Regions from separate parts of the Homo sapiens genome. Here region 1 is linked to region 2. The links come from fine-mapping of genetic effects on gene expression. Tissue or cell type: whole blood. Region 2 holds a variant in brackets; the other region holds the start of a gene. All regions are shown on one strand. Distances are between the middles of the regions.

What was found.
Region 1: it holds the start of CPPED1, and the variant in region 2 is fine-mapped to the expression of CPPED1 in whole blood (TOPMed, PIP above 0.99).

What each region holds. Positions count from the first base shown.
Region 1 is chr16:12,798,835-12,808,584 of GRCh38, forward strand. CPPED1 (calcineurin like phosphoesterase domain containing 1) reads right to left here and starts at 5,053. Exons shown (of 4, transcript NM_018340.3): 1 at 4,873-5,053. The coding sequence starts at 4,942. RefSeq lists enhancers at 3,233-3,312, 4,635-5,004 and a silencer at 5,085-5,134.
Region 2 is chr16:12,820,717-12,830,466 of GRCh38, forward strand. No RefSeq gene overlaps it. Among named protein-coding and RNA genes, the nearest start is that of CPPED1, 22 kb to the left of the region's middle. The variant G/A (reference allele first, on the strand shown) is at 5,081.

The DNA of each region.
Region 1 (9,750 bases), 22 kb before region 2:
CTAATTATCAATTTGCCTAATTAAAATGAATATCTGAACATGCCTTAGGAATGTGAGCTTTCTCAGGTGAGACATGTACAATTTTTTTTAATCAACATCCGTCAACAGAGCCTAGCACATTATGTTAACAGGGAACGGATGACTGAAACCAAGTGTCACACATACCACTACTGGAAGGAGTTGATGGGAATACTGTTACTCACGTAAATCACCGGTGGGAGGAAATGGGTCTTAAAGCAAAGCGCTCTTTCATTTAATTGGCAGGCTACACTTGGAAAACAAACTGCTCAATGAGCTGATTCTGCAGCAAAGGTGAAGGGTTCAGAGCTGTGATTTTTAGGGACTGTTGCTTGAGTTAATCAAACCCCTTTGATGGTGTGTGTTTTGGCAAGAGAAGGGGAAAAGTCAGTTTTTTTTTTTTTTTTTTTTGAGACACAGTCATCACTCTGTCTCCTAGGCTAGAGTGCAGCGGGCAATCTTGGCTTACTGCAACCTCCGCCTCTCAGGTTCAAGTGATTCTCCTGCCTCAGCCTCCCAAGTAGCTGGGATTACAGGTGCCTGCCACCACACCCGGCTAATTTTTTTAATTTTAGTAGAGATGGGGTTTCGCCATGTTGGCCAGACTGGTCTTAAACTCCTGGCCTCAAGCAATCCACCTGCCTCGGCCTCCCAAAGTGCAGGAATTACAGGCGTAAGCCACTGCTCCCAGCCTCGAAAAGCTAGTTCTTTAACTTTCTCAGTCTGCCCAAGGGGCAAATCTACTGGCTTCCCAAGGAGTCTGGAGAGGCCTCTGATGCCTCTAAGGGCACCTCTCCAAGTTGCCAGCGATGCTAATAGAGTCAGGACCCCGGGGAATTGTCAATGAGTGCAATGGAAGCAGCAATGGTAGGCTAGGGTTCAGCACCTAGTAATGTGAACCCACAAACCTGGGGTTCTCAGCAGAACACTCTGAGGCTGGGCCTCTCTAGGCCCTCCGTTAAATGACCCATCCTGGGTGTGTCTATGGGACTGCATGGCTCACAGAGGAGATCAAGTGCTGGCCCCACTTCTAGATTTACTCGGGGCTAAGAAAAGTTCAGAGTCACTCTCTCCTCCTATCAGCAGGGTAGGTATCTTATAGATTTATCATCAAGTCTCTCTCCAGCATCCCCATTCTTATCCAGGGGAGCTGCTCTCTGATCCTCTGGTCCCAGTGGTGGCCCCCTGGCAGCTGCAATGGCCTAGGAAGCTACTATACCTCAGCACTCCCACCATCTCCACTGAAAGACACCCCGTGCCCAATAGGCACCTCCAGCTACAGCAAATAAACACATTCAAAGTAAACAATGGGGGCCAAGTGCGGTGGCTCATGCCTGTAAATCCCAGCACTTTGGGAGGCCGAGGTGCCTGAGGTCAGGAGTCCCAGACCAGCCTGGCCAACATGGCGAAACCCTGTCTCTACTAAAAACACAAAAATTAGCGGGCATGGTGGTACATGCCTGTAATCCCAGCTACTCGGGAGGCTGAAGCAGGAGAATCGTTTGAACGTGGGAGGTGGAGGTTGCAGTGAGTAGCATCACTGCACTGCAGTCTGGGTGACAGAGCTAGACTCTGTCTCAAAAAAAAAAAAAAAAAAGTAAACCATGGGGGACTACAGAAATGCAGCCTCTGGACAAATCCTTGAGCTCCAGCTTCCAACTGGATTGCATCCCAAGTTGCTCTAAAGTAGAAATGCTTTTGTTGCCATTGCTGCAATCAGACCACTCTTTTCAAAATAAAAATCTGATCATACATCCTTGCTTCCTCACACATCCAGCTTGAAACCTCTTGATGCTATTAGGACACGACAAAAATCCTTAGTTACCACCACCTCCCTCTCCAGCCTCAGCCCACACCATGTCCCAACCTCATCTTTCTGCTCCAGACTCAGAGACTTCCTTCAGCCCTCATCCTTCCCTTTCCCATCCTGCCATGTCCTAGGACTCTCACACTTGCTCTGCCCATGGTCCACATGGTCTTCCCTCCCTTCGTGGCCCAGTTAACTCATACTCCTCTTTTAGCAATCAGACGAAGCAACACTTCCTCAGGGAAACCCTGCGTGAATGACCTCAGAGCCCACCAGTAGCCAAGCATTATTTTTTGTGCCCTAGCTTTGTACCTGGATTATTACAAGCCTCTGAGAGCATGTAACTTGAACCACTCCCCCGCCCCCAACTTCCTATTCTCCACCATACTGGACAGTGCAATAGGAATATAAGAAATATTTATTTCCTTTCGGTTTTTTTGTTTGTTTGTTTTGAGCTGGAGTCTTGCTCTGTTGTCCAGGGTGGAGTGCAGTGGCACATTCTCGGCTCACTGCAACTTCTGCTTCCCAGGCTCAGGCAATTCTCCTGCCATAGCCTCCCAAGTAGCTAGGACTACAGGCATGTGCCACCACACCCAGCTAATTTTGTATTTTTAGTACAGATGGAGTTTCACCATGTTGACCATGCTGGTCTCGAACTCCTGACCTCAGGTGATCCACCCGCCTCAGTCTCCCAAAGTGCTGGGATTACAGGCGTGAGCCACCGCGGCCGGCCCTCAACAAATATATAGGCGTGAGCCACCGCAGCCAGCCCACAACAAATATTTCTTGAACTGAAAAAAAAAATAATACAGCAGAGTAACAGGGAACTCTCATATACTGCTGGTGGGAGTATAAATTGGCACTACCACTTTGGAAGGCAGTTTGACCACATCTAGTAATGCTGGGGATGATTATACCCTATAACCCAGAACATAGCTTGTAGGTATATGCCTCAGAGTAACTCTCCCATGTGTCCACAAAGAGATTTGTACAGAATGTTCATAACAGCACTGTTACCAAGGGCAAAAACCAGAAACAACTAAATGGCCATTGTATTAGTCAGGATCCTTGCAGGAAATAGTTGGCATTCTCAAATTAGGATGATTTTAAAAAGGGTTTAAAAAGGGATTACTTGGTGGGGGTTGGGTGGACGAAACCTACAAGGGAGTGTGGTAACCCAAGGTTAGAAAAGCAGAACCACTGCCACTCCCACGCCTCAAAGGAGGAAATGGTTACTCAAATCCAGAACTAGAGAGAATGAGGAGAAAAGCTGTCCTGAGAAAAGGAGCGACCTTGACCTTCAGGGGTGGGGAGGAAGACAGCCAGGCGAGGCAACCCCACAGAGTAAACTGCAAGAATAAATACAGCTGCCTTTTGCTTCTCTCCCTGCTCTGATTTCTTCTCAGGGCTCCCCACTGGCTGAGCCCAAAGGAAAACCAAAAGGCAAGGAGCCCACCGATGTAGCTCACGGAGGGCAAACCCCTGGGGCATGGTGGGGAAGGGAGAAAGGTTTGGAGAGGCAAAGGGAAGATATTCAGCATATACATCAACAGAATGTATAAGGTATATAATCATCCAATGGAATGTTGCCCAGCAAGAAAAGAGCAAAATCTTCATGTTGGACAAAAAAGACAAGGTCCATTAAAATACAGTCGTCCCAGGCCGGGCGCGGTGGCTCAGGTCTGTAATCCCAGCACTTTAGGAGGCTGAGGACGGCGGATCACCTGATGTTGTGAGTTCGAGACCAGCCTGGCCAACATGGAGAAACCCCATCTCTACTAAAAATACAAAATTAGCCGGGCGTGGTGGTGCGTGCCTATAGTTCCAGCTACTCCAGAGGCTGAGGCAGGAGAATCGCTTGAACCCGGGAGGCGGAGGTTACAGTGAGCCAAGATCGTGCCACTGCACTCCAGCCTGGGCAATAAAGCAAGACTCCGCCTTAAATGAATAAATAAGGTTTTACCATAGAATTACCGGAGAAACCTACTTTAGATAAGGTAGCAGGTAAAGTCTCTGAGGAAGTGAATGAACTTTAAAATGAGGTGTGACGGTTGAGAGAGCCAGGCTCACCAACCCTGCTAAAGAAGCAGAAAACAGCAAGCGCCAAGACCCTCAGGGAAAGAACGGCCTTGGCCCTTTTAAATGCAGTTCAAACAAGGGCAACAACAAAACCTGTTGCAGAACTGGGCAAGAGAGAGAATGACAACCCTGAAGGAAGTGGACACAAGCCTGATCATATAGGGCATTTAGGGTGACTTCCCTGGGGGTATAAAGCTGGTGAGAGCCTGGGAGGCGATCTGGCTGCAGGCAGCAAAAAGCCACAGAGGGGAATCAACAAACCAGAAACAAACCTCCCTCTTTACTTAGCACCTAGCATGCGTCCAACACCGGGTTACAAAAATACTTTTGATCTGTTTACGCTTCCAACAACCCTATGAGGCAGGTATTATCAAACCCATTTTTAAGGCAAAGCAGATAATCTAAATCCAAAATCCAAGCACTTCACTACGACTCTCGAATGCCCTCCCTCTCTACTGCTCTGATGGGGCAGTGTTACCATTTCGGTGAATGACTTAAATAAACGTCATTATGGAGTACAGAATACATAACGGTGAACAACCTTAATAAAACCGACACCCTCTAACATGCACCGAACGCTTATCCAGTAACACCCACAAGTATTCCCGTTTCACAGATGTGGAAGCTGAGGCCAAGATGCTAATGCACAGCTTGGAAACCAGGTCTCGCTGCAGAGTCCAAGCTGTCATTAACTATGCTTTGCTACCCTCCTCTTACTTCCCTTCTCTGGGGGAAGTTAGGTCAAGGCCAAGGAGGCTCCTAGACCAGATCGCTCTCTCGGCCTCGCCTCTCAACTGCGCCCCTGGAATCCCTAAGAGCAGGCTTTGATGCAGCTATGGCGGCTCCCAGGCCCCGGTGCAGCCCCGGATGGTGTCCGACTGGCGGAGCGCACACCTGAACAAAAGGTTCCCCCGGCGGAAGGTTCCGCAGCCCCAGAGTCCCCTCCCCGGGTGAGGGGCGGGCAGTACCTGCGGGAAACGCGGCCAGGGTCCTGCCCCTGGCTCTGTGGAAAACACCCCCCGCCTCTGCAGCCGACATGGCGAGCGAGTTTCTGGCCTTCACTTAGAACACTGCGTGGGTGGAAGCCGCGCGACTTCACACAGAACAACCGCTGGACCTGTCCCGCTTTGGGCGACGCCCTTTGATCTCGGGGCGGGACTGGGGCGGGACGGGGAGGGGCCCGGTGGCTCGGGGCGCCACTAGTGCTGCCTGGGCGGAGCGGAGGCGCCAGCGGCCCCTCTGGGATCGACCTGCGCGCCTGGCGAGTGGAGACTGTCTAGGGCACGCGTGGGCGGGGATAAGGCTTTGGGGTCAGTCCTTCCCTAAAGGCAGAGTTACTAGATTTAACAAGTAAAAATGCAGGACTCCCGGTTAAATTGGAATTTCAGATTTTTTTTTTTAAAGAATGACTGACTTGGTATAAATATGTCCTATGCAGTATTTGGGAGCTACTTACGTTAAATTTTTTTTTCATTATCTGAAATTCCAATTGAACTGGGCGTCCTAATTTTTTTAAATTTTTCTCTTTTTGCAGGTTTGAATGGAAGCGTCCTGATTTTTTTTTATCTGACAACTCTATCATAAAGTCAGAAGGAGCCACTGGGGTGGCTTACGCCTGTAACCCCAGCTCTTTGGGAGGCCAAGGAGGGAGGATCGCTTGAGTCCAGGTGTTGGAGACCAGCCTGGGCAACACGGCGAGAGACCTTGCCAATACAAAAAAAAAAAAAAAAAAGATGAAAAGGTGGACGTCTTGGAAGACTGTCTCAGCCTGAACTTCCCAGTGGCTGCCACCATCTTTCTGTTATTATCTTTGCTTGCTATGCACCAGGCAGGGCGCTAAGCACTTTGCACGCTGCTCACTTAATCCCCACTACAGCCCTAGGAGGTGGTGCTGTTATTAGCTGCATCCGTCATTTGGGGAAACTGACGCTCAGAGAGATGAACGAACTTGCACAAGGTGACACACATCTAGAGAGGTAGTAAAGCTGCGAGTAACCAAATTAGTGTCTCTTCAACTCAAGAGCCATTGTAGTGAACTACTTAGCCAGCATTTGTCAAACGTGTTGAAAATACAAATTCCAGAATGGACCTATTGAATCCAAATCTCTATGAAAATGATCTGTGTTTTGTTGTTGTTGTTGTTGTTTTGAGACAGGGTCTCACTCTGGTTGCCTAGGCTGGAGTGCAGTGGCACAATCTCTGCAGTCTCGATCTCCTGGGCTCAGGTGATTCTCCCACCTCAGCCTCCTAAGTGGCTGGCACTATTGGCGTGCGCCACCATGCCTGGCTAATACTTTGTATTTTTAGTAGAGACGAGTTTGACTATGTTGCCCAGGCTGATCTGGAACTCCTGAGCTCAAGCAATCCACCCACCCGGGCCTCCTAGAGTGCTAGGATTACAGGCATGAGCCACAGTGCCTGGCCTGAAAATGATCTGTTTTTAACAAGCACTGCAGGGGAGCTCTTATGATCTTACAAATTTGGGAAATTCTTTTCTAAACTAGCTGCCTACATCCAAAGCACTGTTTGAGTAGCTAATATGGCCATAACTACTGTTCTCTAATCCTTGACAAGAGTCACCCATGAATCATAGTGGTTAAGAGTATAAATGCCTATGAGTCCTGGAGTCAGTGGGCTTGGATTAATCCCGGTTCTACCCACTTACTGGTTGTATGCTCTTGAAAATTGCATAGTTTCTCTATGCCTCAGTTTCCCTATCTGTGAAATGGAAACAATAGTAGCATCTAGGTCATAGGGTTGCAGAAAGGCTTAAATGAGTTCATGTATCAAAGTGCTTAGAATAATAGTTCTAATAACAAATGGTAGGTACTCAATGAATATTAGCCATTGTTATTATTAATCAATCACTATAACCCTATTCCCTGAACATGGCCTGGCCCAGAGGAGGAGTCCCAAGAAATGTGAAGGAGGCCGGGCGCAATGGTTCAGGCCTGTAATGCCAGCACTTTGGGAGGTGGAGGTGGCGGATCATGAGGTCTACAGATCGGGACCACCCTCGCCAACATGGTGAAACCTCATCTCAACTAAAAATACAAAAATTAGCTGGGTGTGGTGGTGCACGCCTGTAGTCCCAGCTACTCGGGATGCTAAGGCAGGAGAATCACTTGAACCCGAGAGGCAGAGGTTGCAGTGAGCCGAGATCCCGCCGCTGCACTCCAGCCTGAGCGACAGAGTGAGACTGTGTCTTTAAAAAAAAAAAATGTGAAGGGGAAGCTGAGCACAATGGCTCATGCTTGTAATCCCAGCATTTTGGGAGGTTTAGGCAGGAGGATTACTTGAGCCCAGGAGTTCAAGACCAGCCTGAGCAACATAGTGAGAACTCATCTCTATTAAAAAATTTTTTTTAATTAAAAGAAATGTGAAGGAGAGAATGAATTATAGAAACAGACCCTGCCTCTTATTCACTAGCTTTGCAGTCATACTGGCCATTCAGTTCATTAAACATGCAAATTAATTTCCCTCTCTGCATATGCAGTTCTTTCTGCTTAAAATGCCTCTTCCCAGCTGGGCACCGTGGCTCATGCCTATAATCCCAGCATTTTGGGAGGCCAAGGCAGGTGGATCACGAGGTCAAGAGATCAAGACCATCCTGGCCAACATGGTAAAACCCTGTCTCTACTAAAAATACAAAAATTAGCCAGATGTGGTGGCGCGTGCCTTTAATCCCAGCTACTCGGGAGGCTGAGGCAGGAGAATTGCTTGAACCCGGGAGGCGGAGGTTGCAGTGAGCTGAGATCGCGCCACTGCACTCCAGCCTGGTGAAAGAGCAAGACTCTGTCTGAAAAACGAACAAACAAACAAAAAAGTATCTTCCCCTGCTGAGCTAAAGCCCATTTGAACATGAAGGCCTGCAGTTAAATAACACTTCTGTGGAGAGGCCATGCCCTACCCATTTGCACACTTTGCTGATCTAAACTAGGCCTCCCTCATTCTTTGTTAGAGCACTATGTTCTTGTCCCTTGTTGCACTTTGCACAGTTGATAATTATATGTTTTCAGGTGTAATTATTTATTTAATGTTGACTTTCCCGACTCAACTATAAGGTCTATTAAGTTGGTTACCTTTTTAAAAAATTTACTGTTTTGGCCGGGCACAGTGTCTCACGCCTGTAATCCCAGCACTTTGGGAGGCCAAGGCAGGCAGATCATTTGAGGTCAGGAGATCGAGACCAGTCTGGCCAACATGGTGAAACCCCATCTGTACTGAAAATATAAAAATTAGGTAGGCATGGGAGCACGCCTGTAATCCCAGCTACTTGGGAGGCTAAGGCAGGAGAATCACTTGAACCTGGGAGGCGGAGGTTGCAGTGGGCCAAGATCGTGCCACTGCACTCTAGCCTGAGTGACGAAGTGAGACTCTGTCTCAAAAAAAAAATTATTATTTATAAAGATGGTGTCTCACTGTTATCCAGGCTGGTCTTGAACTCCTGGCCTCAAGTGATCCTCCTGCCTCAGCCTCCCAAAGTGTTAGGATTACAAGCATGAGCCGCCACGCCCAGCTGAGGGCAGTTACCTTGACTGTCTAGCTCACCAAGCAGGATGCCTGAGGCATAGACACTAAATGTTTGTTGCATTAATAAATAAATGGATTATGAATATCTCAACAAGATAACCATATTTTGAACCTCAGCAGCAATTGGGAATAGATCTATAGGCCAATCTGGAGCAACTTCAAAACTGTACCAGTGCATTGGATGATAGCAATAGCTGCAATTGTGAAAGGAAAATAAATATTGAGACCCCAAAATCACTAAGCCAAGGGGAAAAGTCAGGCTGGGAGCTGCTTAGGGCAAACCTGCCTCCCACTCTATTGCTGAAACAGACAGCTACTAAGGCTGGGTACAGTGGCTTACACCTGTTATCCCAGCACTTTGGGAGGCCGAGGCAGGAGGATCACTTGAGGTCAGGAGTTTGAGACCAGCCTGGCCAACATGGTGAGACATCCATCTGTACTAAAAATACAAAAACTAGCCAGTTGTAGTGGTGCATGCCTATAATCCCAGCTACTCGGGAGGTTGAGGCAGGAGAATCGCTTCAAACCACAAGACGGAGGTTGCAGTGAGCTGAGATTGTGCCACTGCGCTCCAGCCTGGGTGACAGAAGGAAACTGTCTCAAAAAAAAAAAAAAAAAAACCTACTAAGATAAAAAAGCTACGTACGTCGCTCAGAAGGAATTTCCTTGTAGACAAAGGACAGACAGAACTCAAAGTTATCCCTCTGCTCACTGAGATAAATGCATTTCTGACTGCCTCCTCTGGAAAAGCTAATCAGAAACTGGAAAGAATGCAACCTTTTTTTTTTTTTATTCCCCCGAGACAGAGTCTTGCTGTGTTGCCCAGGCTGGAGTGCAGTGGCATGATCTCTGCTCACTGCAACCTCTGCCTCCCAGGTTCAAGCGATTCTCCTCCCTCAGTCTCCTAGGTAGCTGGGGTTACAGGCATCTGCCACCACGCCCAGCTAATTTTTGTATTTTTAGTAGAGACGGGGTTTTGCCGTGTTGGCCAGGCTGGTCTTGAACTCCTGACCTCAGGTGATCTGCCCGCCTCAGTCTCCCAAAGTCCTGGGATTACAGGCATGAGCCACCGTGCCCAGCCACCTTTTGTCTCTTATCTACCTGTGACCTGGAAGCCCCCTCCCCACTTCGGGTTGTCTCGCCTTTCCAGACGGAACCAATGTACATCTTACATATATTGATTGATGTCTCATGCCTCCCTAGAATGTATAAAACCAAGCTGTGCCCCGACCACCTTGGCACGTGTCATCAGGACCTCCCAAGGCTATGTCATGGGTGCACATCCTTAACTTTGGCAAAGTAAACTTCCTAAA
Region 2 (9,750 bases):
TTGAACACCTGGGCTCAAGCAATTCTCCCACCTCAGCCTCCCAAGTAGCTGAGACTAAGGTGGGTGCCACCACACCTGCTAATTATTTTCCGTAGATACGAAGTCTTGTTATGTTGCCCAGGGTGATTTCAGACTCCTGGGCTCAAGCGATCTTTCCACCTTGGCTTCCCAAAGTGCTGGGATCACAGGCATGAGCCACTGCATCTGGCCCATGATTTAATTTTTGAACAAGCAGATTTTGAGGGATTTTGAAGTGAGAAAAGCCGAATTCTGGTTATGGCTCTGCCAAATGTGAACAATGAACCCATCACATAACCCTTCTGAGCCCAAGCCACTTGATCTTTAAAAAAAGAGGGCACTGGCTGGGCATGATGGCTCACACTGGTAATCCCAGCACATTGGGAGGTCAAGGTGGGTGGATCACTTGAGGTCAGTAGTTTGAGACCAAACTGCCCAACATAGTGAAAGCCCGTTTCTACTAAAAATACAAAAATTAGCTGGGTGTGGTGGCGCATGCCATTAGTCCCAGCTATTCGGGAGACTGAGGCATGAGAATCGCTTAAACCTGGGAGGTGGAGGTTGCAGTGAGCTGAGATTGCACCACTGCACTCCAGCCTGGGTGACAGAGTGAGACTCTATCTCAAAAAATAAAAATAAATAAATAATGGAGGCACTGCGTTAGATCAGAAGAGCAAATGGGTAGCAGATATGGTTTGTTTATTCTACACAGGGTTTTACATTTTAATTTTCTAGCAACATTTGACAATTGGGAGATGATACACAAAAGCTCAGACTTGTGCCTCCAGAAACTGGCAGAAGCTGATCCCTGTAGATAGGACATGTGGTCCCCTGTTTTTCCACAGCCCCCACCATGCCCTATTGTATTCCTGATGGTGAGGTCCAGTATCAGTTGCCATTTGCCACCTACACCCAGCCTGCTTTATATTTATGTTACCTTCCTGGCCCCCTGAGCCATTCAGTTTGAGGTCTCTGGATTAAACACTCTCTAAAGTTCCTTTCAGCTCAGTGTGTCTATAGTTCACCTCTATATCCACTGGAAATACAAGTCCAGTGAGAAATCAGAGCTAGTGGTGCAGATTTGGAAATTACATGAGTAGAGATGATAGTAAGATCTTTGTATGAGTCCATTTTCACACTACTATAAAGAGCTACCTGAGATTGGATAATTTTATGAAGAAAAGTGGTTTAATTGACTCATAGTTCTGCAGCCTGTGCAGGAGGAATGGTTGGGGAGGCCTCAGGGAACTTACAGTCATGGCGGAAGGCAAAGGGGAAGCCGGCACGTCTTCCCGTGGCAGAGCAGAAGAGCGAGAGGGTGAAGGGGAAAGTGCTACACACTTTTGAATAAACAGATCTCATGAGAACTCACTATCACAAGAATAGCAAGTGAGAAATCCGCCCCCATGATCCAATCACCTCCCACAAGGTCCCTCCTCCAACACTGGAAATCACAATTCGATGGGAGATTTGGGTGAGGACACAGAGCCAAACCATATAACCCTTGAGCTACATCATGGGTGTAAGTGTAAAAAAAAAAAAAAAAAGAAAAAAAAAGAAGAACAGAGAACTGAGGACAGAGAATATTCACCTATGGCTAAGGATGGTTAAGGTTAAGAACATGAGAAGGATGAAAGGACACAGAAAAGAAGAGTTTAGATGGAATCGTGCTAGGTAATGGAAACAAGAGAAGTCTCAAGGAGGCTGTATTAGTCCATTTTCATGCTGCTGATAAAGACATACCTGAAACTGGGCAATTTACAAAAGAAAGAGGTTTAATGTTTTTACAGTTCCACATGGCTGGGGAGGCCTTGCAATTATTGCAGAAGGTGAAAGCCATGTCTCACATGGCGGCAGACAAGAGAAGAATGAGGTAGCTTGTGCAGGGAAACTCCCATTTTTAAAACCATCAGATCTGGTGAAACTTATTCACTATCATGAGAACAGCATGGGAAAGACCCGCCTCCCGATTAGCTGGGATTACAGGCACTCACCACCACGTCTGGCTAATTTTTGTATTTTTAGAAGAGACAGGGTTTCACCATGTTGGCCAGGCTGATGTCAAACTCCTGACCTCAGGTGATCCACCTGCCTTGGCCTCCCAAAGTGTTGAGATTACAGGCAAGAGCCACTGCGCCCGGCCCTCAGCTGTGTTCCTGAGCAGTGCTGGCCACTGTCCCCAGTGCTGTGCTGTGACAACCCACCATCCAGTTGTAAACATCTCTATCACAATGTGCACAACAGCCGCAAGCACAACACAGTATGACATTCAGCCATGCAGTTCTTGACACAGATTATTAGAGCAAAAGACATTCAAAAACAAGAGAGCAAGGAGATTTGCTTTCCTGTTTTGTCCCTGCCTTATGAGAAGAAGCTGTTCTTTGGAAACAGTATGTCCTGGGTCAAGTCCATGTTAAAAATTACATGAAGCTAACACTGGCTCAAGGCTTTTAGAGTCCCAAGAACTGCAATCGTAGTGCCCCTTTCTTCGTAATGGAAATAATACCAAAATCAGGATGAGAAAGCCCAATAAAATTCTGATGTTTTTCTATCATTGGCACTTAGATGCTTATATTTTTGAAATATTGTATATCGAATTCTTTCCAATTTTTTTTTTCTCCTTATCCAACCCTTTTTTGCTGGTGGACTGTTCATGTTTTCTTGGCCATCTGAGTGTTCTGACGTTACAGTTAATGCAAAGGGTAATGTGTGAAATTGAAGGAACTTCTTTAAACCTCCACGGAAGTTTTATTGCCTGATAAAATTATGGTCTTCATGAAATACTAAAGCAATAAAGGACAAATGAGTTTCTTTTATTTTCTTTTTTGTTGTTGTTGACATGGTTTTGTTCTGTCACCCAGGCTGGAGTGCAGTGGCGCAGTCACGGCTCCCTGCAGCTTTGATGTCCCAGGCCCGAGTGATCCTCTCACCTCAGTCTCCTGAGTAGTTGGGACTACAGGCACACACCACCATGCCTCGCTAAATTTTTTTTTTTTTGACACAAGTTCTTGCTCTGTCACGCAGGCTGGAGTGCAATGGTGTGATTATGGCTCACTGCAATCTTCACCTCCCAGGCTCAAGTGTTCCTCCCATTTCAGCCTCCTGAGTAGCTGGGACTACAGGTATGCATCACAATGCCTGGCTAATTTTTTTTTTTTTTTTAAGAGACGGGGTACAGGGTTTCACCATGTTACCCAGGCTGGTCTTGAACTACTGGACTCAAGTGATCCACCTCCTGTGACTCAAGTGATCCACTGGCCTTGACCTCCCAAAGTCATTGTTTTGCATGGCCTAGGAATGTTATTTTGTCAGCTGTTTTCTTTACTTAATACGCTGATGTCATATATACCAATATATATGTGTGTGTATGTAAATGTTGATATGCCATATATGTGTATGTATAAAATAGTCCACAGTTTTACAGTTGCACGTGGATTCTGAAGTTGTTTCAAATGCTGTTCTTTTAGGTAGAACTCTATGAAATTGCTGTGTTCATTGGTCAAAAATGGCCAAATACCAGTCATTTCATATGGTTCAACCTACTATCTATGAGGACTATTGCAATAAACAGCTTAAATATATTGGTGCTCTTTTTTGGAGAATTTCTTTAGGATAAGTTCCTAGAAATGGGATTATTGGGCTAAATAGCACATACACATAAATTGTTGATGGGTTTTGTCACCATGTTCTCTTTCCCATCAATAGTGTAAGGGGCTCCCCAATATCCCTCACACTTGGCAAACTAAACTATAAGTTATGGGTAAACCAGTTTACTCTTTTTTTTTTTTTTTTTTTTTTAAGATGGAGTCTTACTCTGTCACCCAGGCTGGAGTGCAGTGGTGCAATGTTGGCTCACTGCAACCTCTACCTCCCAGGTTCAAGCAATTCTCCTGCCTCAGCCTCCCAAGTAGCAGGGACTACAGGCGTGAGTCACCATACCCAGCTAAATTTGTATTTTTAGTAGAGACAGGGTTTCACCATGTTGGCCAGGCTGGTCTCGAACTCCTGGCCTCAGATGATCCGCCTGCCTTGGCCTCCCAAAGTGCTGGGATTACAGGCTTGAGCCACTGTGCCCAGCCCTAAACTGGTTTACTCTTATGAAGTATGTATGCACTCCTCTTTCTGTGGATCTTTGTTTCCCGTTGCCTCTCTTTGGGGTGATCTTTCCTCTGGCATGCAGATACTCAGGTGCCCCCCTCAACTTGCATTGCACAAGAATCAGGCAGTAGAAACTGTGAGCCCAAACAGATGTGCCAGACAGGTCTCAATCAATTTAGAAAGTTTATTTTGTCAAGGTTAAAGACATGCCTGTGACACAGCCTTAGAATTTCCTGATGACATGTGCCCAAGGTGGTTAGGATACAGCTCGCTTCTATACCTTTTAACTAGACATCAGTCAATCAATACATGTGAGATGTACATTGGTTCGAGCTGGAAAGGCAGGACAACTCGAGACGGGGGCTTCCAGGTTATAGGTTGATTTAAAGATTGTCTGGGCTGGGCGTGGTGGCTCCTATAATCCCAGCACTTTGGGAGGCTGAGGCGGATGGATCACGAAGTCAGGAGTTCAAGACCAGCTTGTCAACATGGTGAAACCCCGTGTCTACTAAAAATACAAAAAATTAGCCTGGCATGGTGGCGGGTACCTGTAATCCCAGCTACTCGGGAGGCTGAGGCAGGCGAATCGCTTGAACCCGGGAGGCGGAGGTTGTAGTGAGCTGAGATCACACCATTGCACTCCAGCCCAGGCAATAGTGTGAGACTCCATCTCAAAAAAAAAAAAAAAGAAAAAGAAAGAAAAAAAGAAAATGAAATTATGAAAAAAAAAAAAAGATTTTCTGATGGGCAATTGACTAAAAGAGTTAAGTTATTATCTAAAGACCTGGAATCAATATAAAGGAATATCTCGGCTATGATAATGGGTTGTAGAGACCAAAGTATTATCATGCAGAAGAAGCCTCCAGGTAGCAGGCTTTGGAGATAATAGATTGTAAATGGTTTTTTTTTTTTCTTTTCTTTTCTTTTTTTTTTTTTTTTGAGACAGAGTCTTGCTCTGTCTGTC[G/A]CCCAGGCTGGAGTGCAGTGATGTGATCTTGGCTCACTGCAACCTCTGCCTCCTGGGATCAAGCGATTTTCTGCCTCAGACTCCTGAGTAGCTGGGATTACAGGCATCCACTACCATGGCCAGCTAATTTTTCTATTTTTAGTAGAGATGGGTTTTCACCATGTTGCCCAGGCTGGTCTTGAACTCCTCCTGGCCTCAAGTGATCTGCCTGCCCTGGCCTCCCAAAATGTTGGGATTACAGGCATGAGCCACCGTGCCTGGCCTGTAAATGTTTCTTATCAACTTTAAGGTCTGTGTTGATGTTAATGCTGGTTGGCTTTTCCTGAATTTCAAAAGCAGGGAGAGTATAAGGAGGCATGTCCGACTCTCCCCCAACCATGGTCTGAACTAGTTAGGTTAACTTTGGAATGTCCTTGGCTAAGAGGAGGGGGTCCATTCACATGGGCCTTAGAATTTTATTTTTTGTTTACAAAACTGAAACTGTGCCTCCTTTTGTGACAACTGTAACATTGAATTTCCTGGTATGTGATTTCTAAAAAAACTGATTTATATATTTAAAATTCCTGTATATCACATTAATTATTTCCTGAGTTTGGTGTGCATCATGAGTACAGAATATTATCAATAAAATAAAAGTAAATTTAAAGTAAGCTGACAAGGTGCCAGCTCCAATGTTAAGCATTTGTTTTATTGAATCTTTACAGCCACGCTGAGAAGTAAGTATTGGCATCCACATTTTACATAGAAAAAACTTGGGCTCAGAGAGGTTAATTCTCTCATCCAAGGTGGCATAGCTACTGTATTGATGATCTATTGCTACTTGACATGGTTTGGCTGTGTCTGTACCCAAATCTCACTTGAATTGTAATAATCCCCACGTGTCAAGAGCAGGGCCAGGTGGAGATAATTGAATCATAGGGGTGGTTCCCCCATACTGTTCTTGTGGTAGTGAGTTTCACAATATCTGATGGTTTTATAAAGGGAGTTCCCCTGCACATGTTCTCTTGCCTGCTGCCAGGTAAGACGTGACTTTGCTCCTCCTTTGCCTTCTGCCATGATTGTGAGGCCTCCCTAGCCATGTTGGAACTGTGAGTCCAACACGTCCCTTCAACCTCTTTCCTTTATAAATTATCCAGTCTCTGCTATGTCTTTATCAGCAGCATGAGCACAGACTAATACACTACTTAACAAATTACCACAAACTTAGCAGCCTTAAATGACAAATATTTATTATTTGACAGTTGCTGGGAGCCAGGAGTTTGGGCAAAGCTTAGCTAAATACTCTGCTTATGGGTTCTCAAGAGGCTATAACTGAGGAGTCAGTCAGGGTGGGGGTCACCTCTGAAGACTCAGCTGGGGAAAGGTCTGCTTTGCAACTTCACTTACATGGCTGTTGGAAGGATTCAGTTCCTTCAGGTTTCTTGGCCCAAGGGCTTCAGTTTCCTGTTGGCTGGAGGCCACCTTCAGTTCCTTGGCACATGGCACTTTCTAACATGGTGGCTCACAACATGGAAACTTGCTTCATCAAAGCAGCAAGGGACAGAAACTTCTAGCAAGACAAAACTCACATCTTGTGTAGTTTCATCACAGAAGTAGCATCCAATTACTTTGACCATATTCTGTTGGTTAGAATCAAGCCACCAGGGCAATACACACTTAGGGGAGAGGATTACACAAGTGCACAAAGACCAGGAGGTGGGAATCACTGGGGCCATATCGAGTCTACCTGCCACAGCAATTGAAGAGCAAAGCTGGGATGTGAAGCCAGTTTCATCCAAGTCTGAAGCTCCCAACAGTTAACCATTAAGCTCCACTGCCTTCCACAGAAATTAATCTGATTACTTTTTAGAAATATTAATCTGGTTATTCCAACATGGACTGCAGTGTTTATCTCAATGGGTTACCCTTTTAAATCTGTTCTCTCAAGTGAGAACTGAAAGATCCATCCAAAGTGAATGAATTCACTAGTTTTATGAATTTTCTTAAGAGGTAACTTTAGAAAGGAAGACTAATGACCTTAAGACTTCCAATGCTAAATCTTGACCCTGAGCTATTAGACCTAGCCTTCCTATATGATTTTTAGAACATCTGACCAATTTGCATAAAGAAATATACAAATCGGGCAGATGATTAGATTCAAAGAAGATAAACAAAACTTCCCTGGGAGAAAGAATTTAGATTATTCCCTCAACCTTTTTTCCCTCCCCTTTTATGTCTTGAATCTGTAACTAAGTTCAGAATTAAAATGACTAGTCTTAACAAACATCTTCAGACTCAGCCATACATCTGTGTATAATTTGGTTTGTGGGAGAGCAGGAGGACTGGTTCATGGGGCATCTTTGTGGGCAGCAATATATCTTCATTTATTGAAATGTTCCTAGCAACAGAAGTTGTTTTCTTTATCGCCCCCAAATCCTCAAAGTAGAAACAGGCAAAAATGATGACAAGAAATCTAGAAAATTGTAGATGTATTTTCATTTTTTTAAAGTGTAACTTGTGTTGTAAGTATATTTCCTGGCATTTGCCAACATAAAGTCAAAAGCTTTTTTTAAAAAAATTTTAATGACAAACATGAGTTCATGTGCAATTTTTTTTTCCCCAAAAGCTAACATATGGGACAGCAGTTAAATGCTGTCCTGTCATACTGCTTAGAGATTGCTTTGGCATTTCAATTGTATTTCCCTGGCATGATGATTTTTCTTTGGCTATTTTCATATTATTCTACTTTGCATGCATTCAGAATGTACCAGCTCAATTCCTTCTGCAAAGTAACAACAACAAAATTTATTAAAAATTGTTAATGATCACTTACTGTGTAGTCATTCTAGGCTACACACTTTCCATGCATTATTTCATGCTGTTTTCATAATAATCCTAAAACCTAGGTAATTATCTGATTTTATAGATAAGGAAAATGAAGCTTGTGGCTCAGAGAACTTAAGTAATTTGCCCAAGGCCACACAGCAAGTAATTAGTAGAGCAGGATTGGAGAGCATGCTCTTTGGACTATGCAATACTGCATAGGCAATGAGTGATGAATGAATGAATGAGTGACTACTGAGCTCAATTAGAGCAGAACTTACCTGTGTTTTTTGTTTTTTTTTTTGAGATGGATTCTTGCTCTGTTGCCCAGGCTGGAGTGCAGTGGCATGATCTCAGCTCACTGCAACCTCTGCCTCCCAGGTTACAGCGATTCTCCTGCCTCAGCCTCCCAAGTAGCTGGGATTACAGGCATGCACTACGAGACCTGGCTAATTTTTTATTATTAGTAGAGATGGGGTTTCACCATGTTGGCCAGGAGGTCGAACTCCTGACCTCAGGTGATCCACCTGCCTCGGTCTCCCTAAGTGCCAGGATTACAAGTGTGAGCCACCGCCACGCCTGGCCCCTTACTTGTAATTGTATGAGTAAATCAGAGTTTCTCATTTTCTCCCATCCTCCATTGGCAAAGAGTGCAGGATAATGAGACCTCAGGCTTTGTGGGTATTTGTGTTGGCGAAGACCATAGGCTGTGGAGTCAGACAGAGCTATATTCCAATTCAGGCTTACAGCTTTTCAGCTGTACGACCTTGGCCAAGTTCTATAACCTTACTGAGCCTCAGTTTGCTCTTACAAAAAGAGCAGGAATAATGAGTTTTCATCAAGGCCATTTGCAAACAAGGATCTATTTAGTGAAATAAATATGAGTGTATCCATGTCATACAGTTGATGTGAGGATTCTATGAGGGTATACACATAAAGCACTTACTTAGCACAGTGCCTGAAGGTATGGATAAATGCTTACTCCTTGGTAGTTACCATAATTATAATATCACATGGAGTTATGAAAAGTTGGATTTGAGTTCTGATTCTTTCACTTATTAGCTCTGTGACTAGCAGTAAGATATCTCTCTGAGACTCAGTTTCCCTATCTGTAAAATGGGTATCACAATATCGCCCTTGCCGTGAACGATGCTGTGAAAAATTGTATGGAAGTGGTTCTCAAATGTCACCCAGAAATAGTTGGCAGTGTTTGAAGACATCCTGGCCGTCATACTGAGGGGAGGTGGTGGTGGTGCTACTGGCATCTAGGGGGTAGAGGACAGGGACGCTGCTGAACATCCTATAATGCCCATGGCAGCCCCTACAACTCAGCATTATCTGGCCCCAAATACCAATGGTTCCAAGGTGGAGAAATCCTTTGGAATGGGCATTTCACGCAGAGCTAGTGCACAGGAAATGCTAGCTATAATATTATTATGTTTTGTCATTTTGAGTTTCCATTTTTTTTTCTTTTTTCTTTTTTTTTTTTTTTGAGACAGAGTCTCAGTCTGTTGCCCAGGCTGGAGTGCAGTGGTGCATTCTCGGCTATCTGAAGACTCTACCTCCTGGGTTCAAGTGATTCTCCTGCTTCAGCCTCCCAAGTAGCTGGGATTATAGGCACCCATGACCACGCCTAGCTAATTTTTGTATTTTTAGTAGAGATGGGGTTTTGCCATGTTGGCCAGGCTGGTCTCGAACTCCTAACCTCAGGTGATCTGCCCACCTCAGCCTCCCAAAGTGCTGGGATTACAGGCGTGAGCCACTGCGCCCGGCTGAAATATCCAATTATTAATGATACATTTTCCTGAAAAGGTATGATTATTGACAAATTAGTCTACTCATGTTTTAAGAGTAAAGTTGACATATTA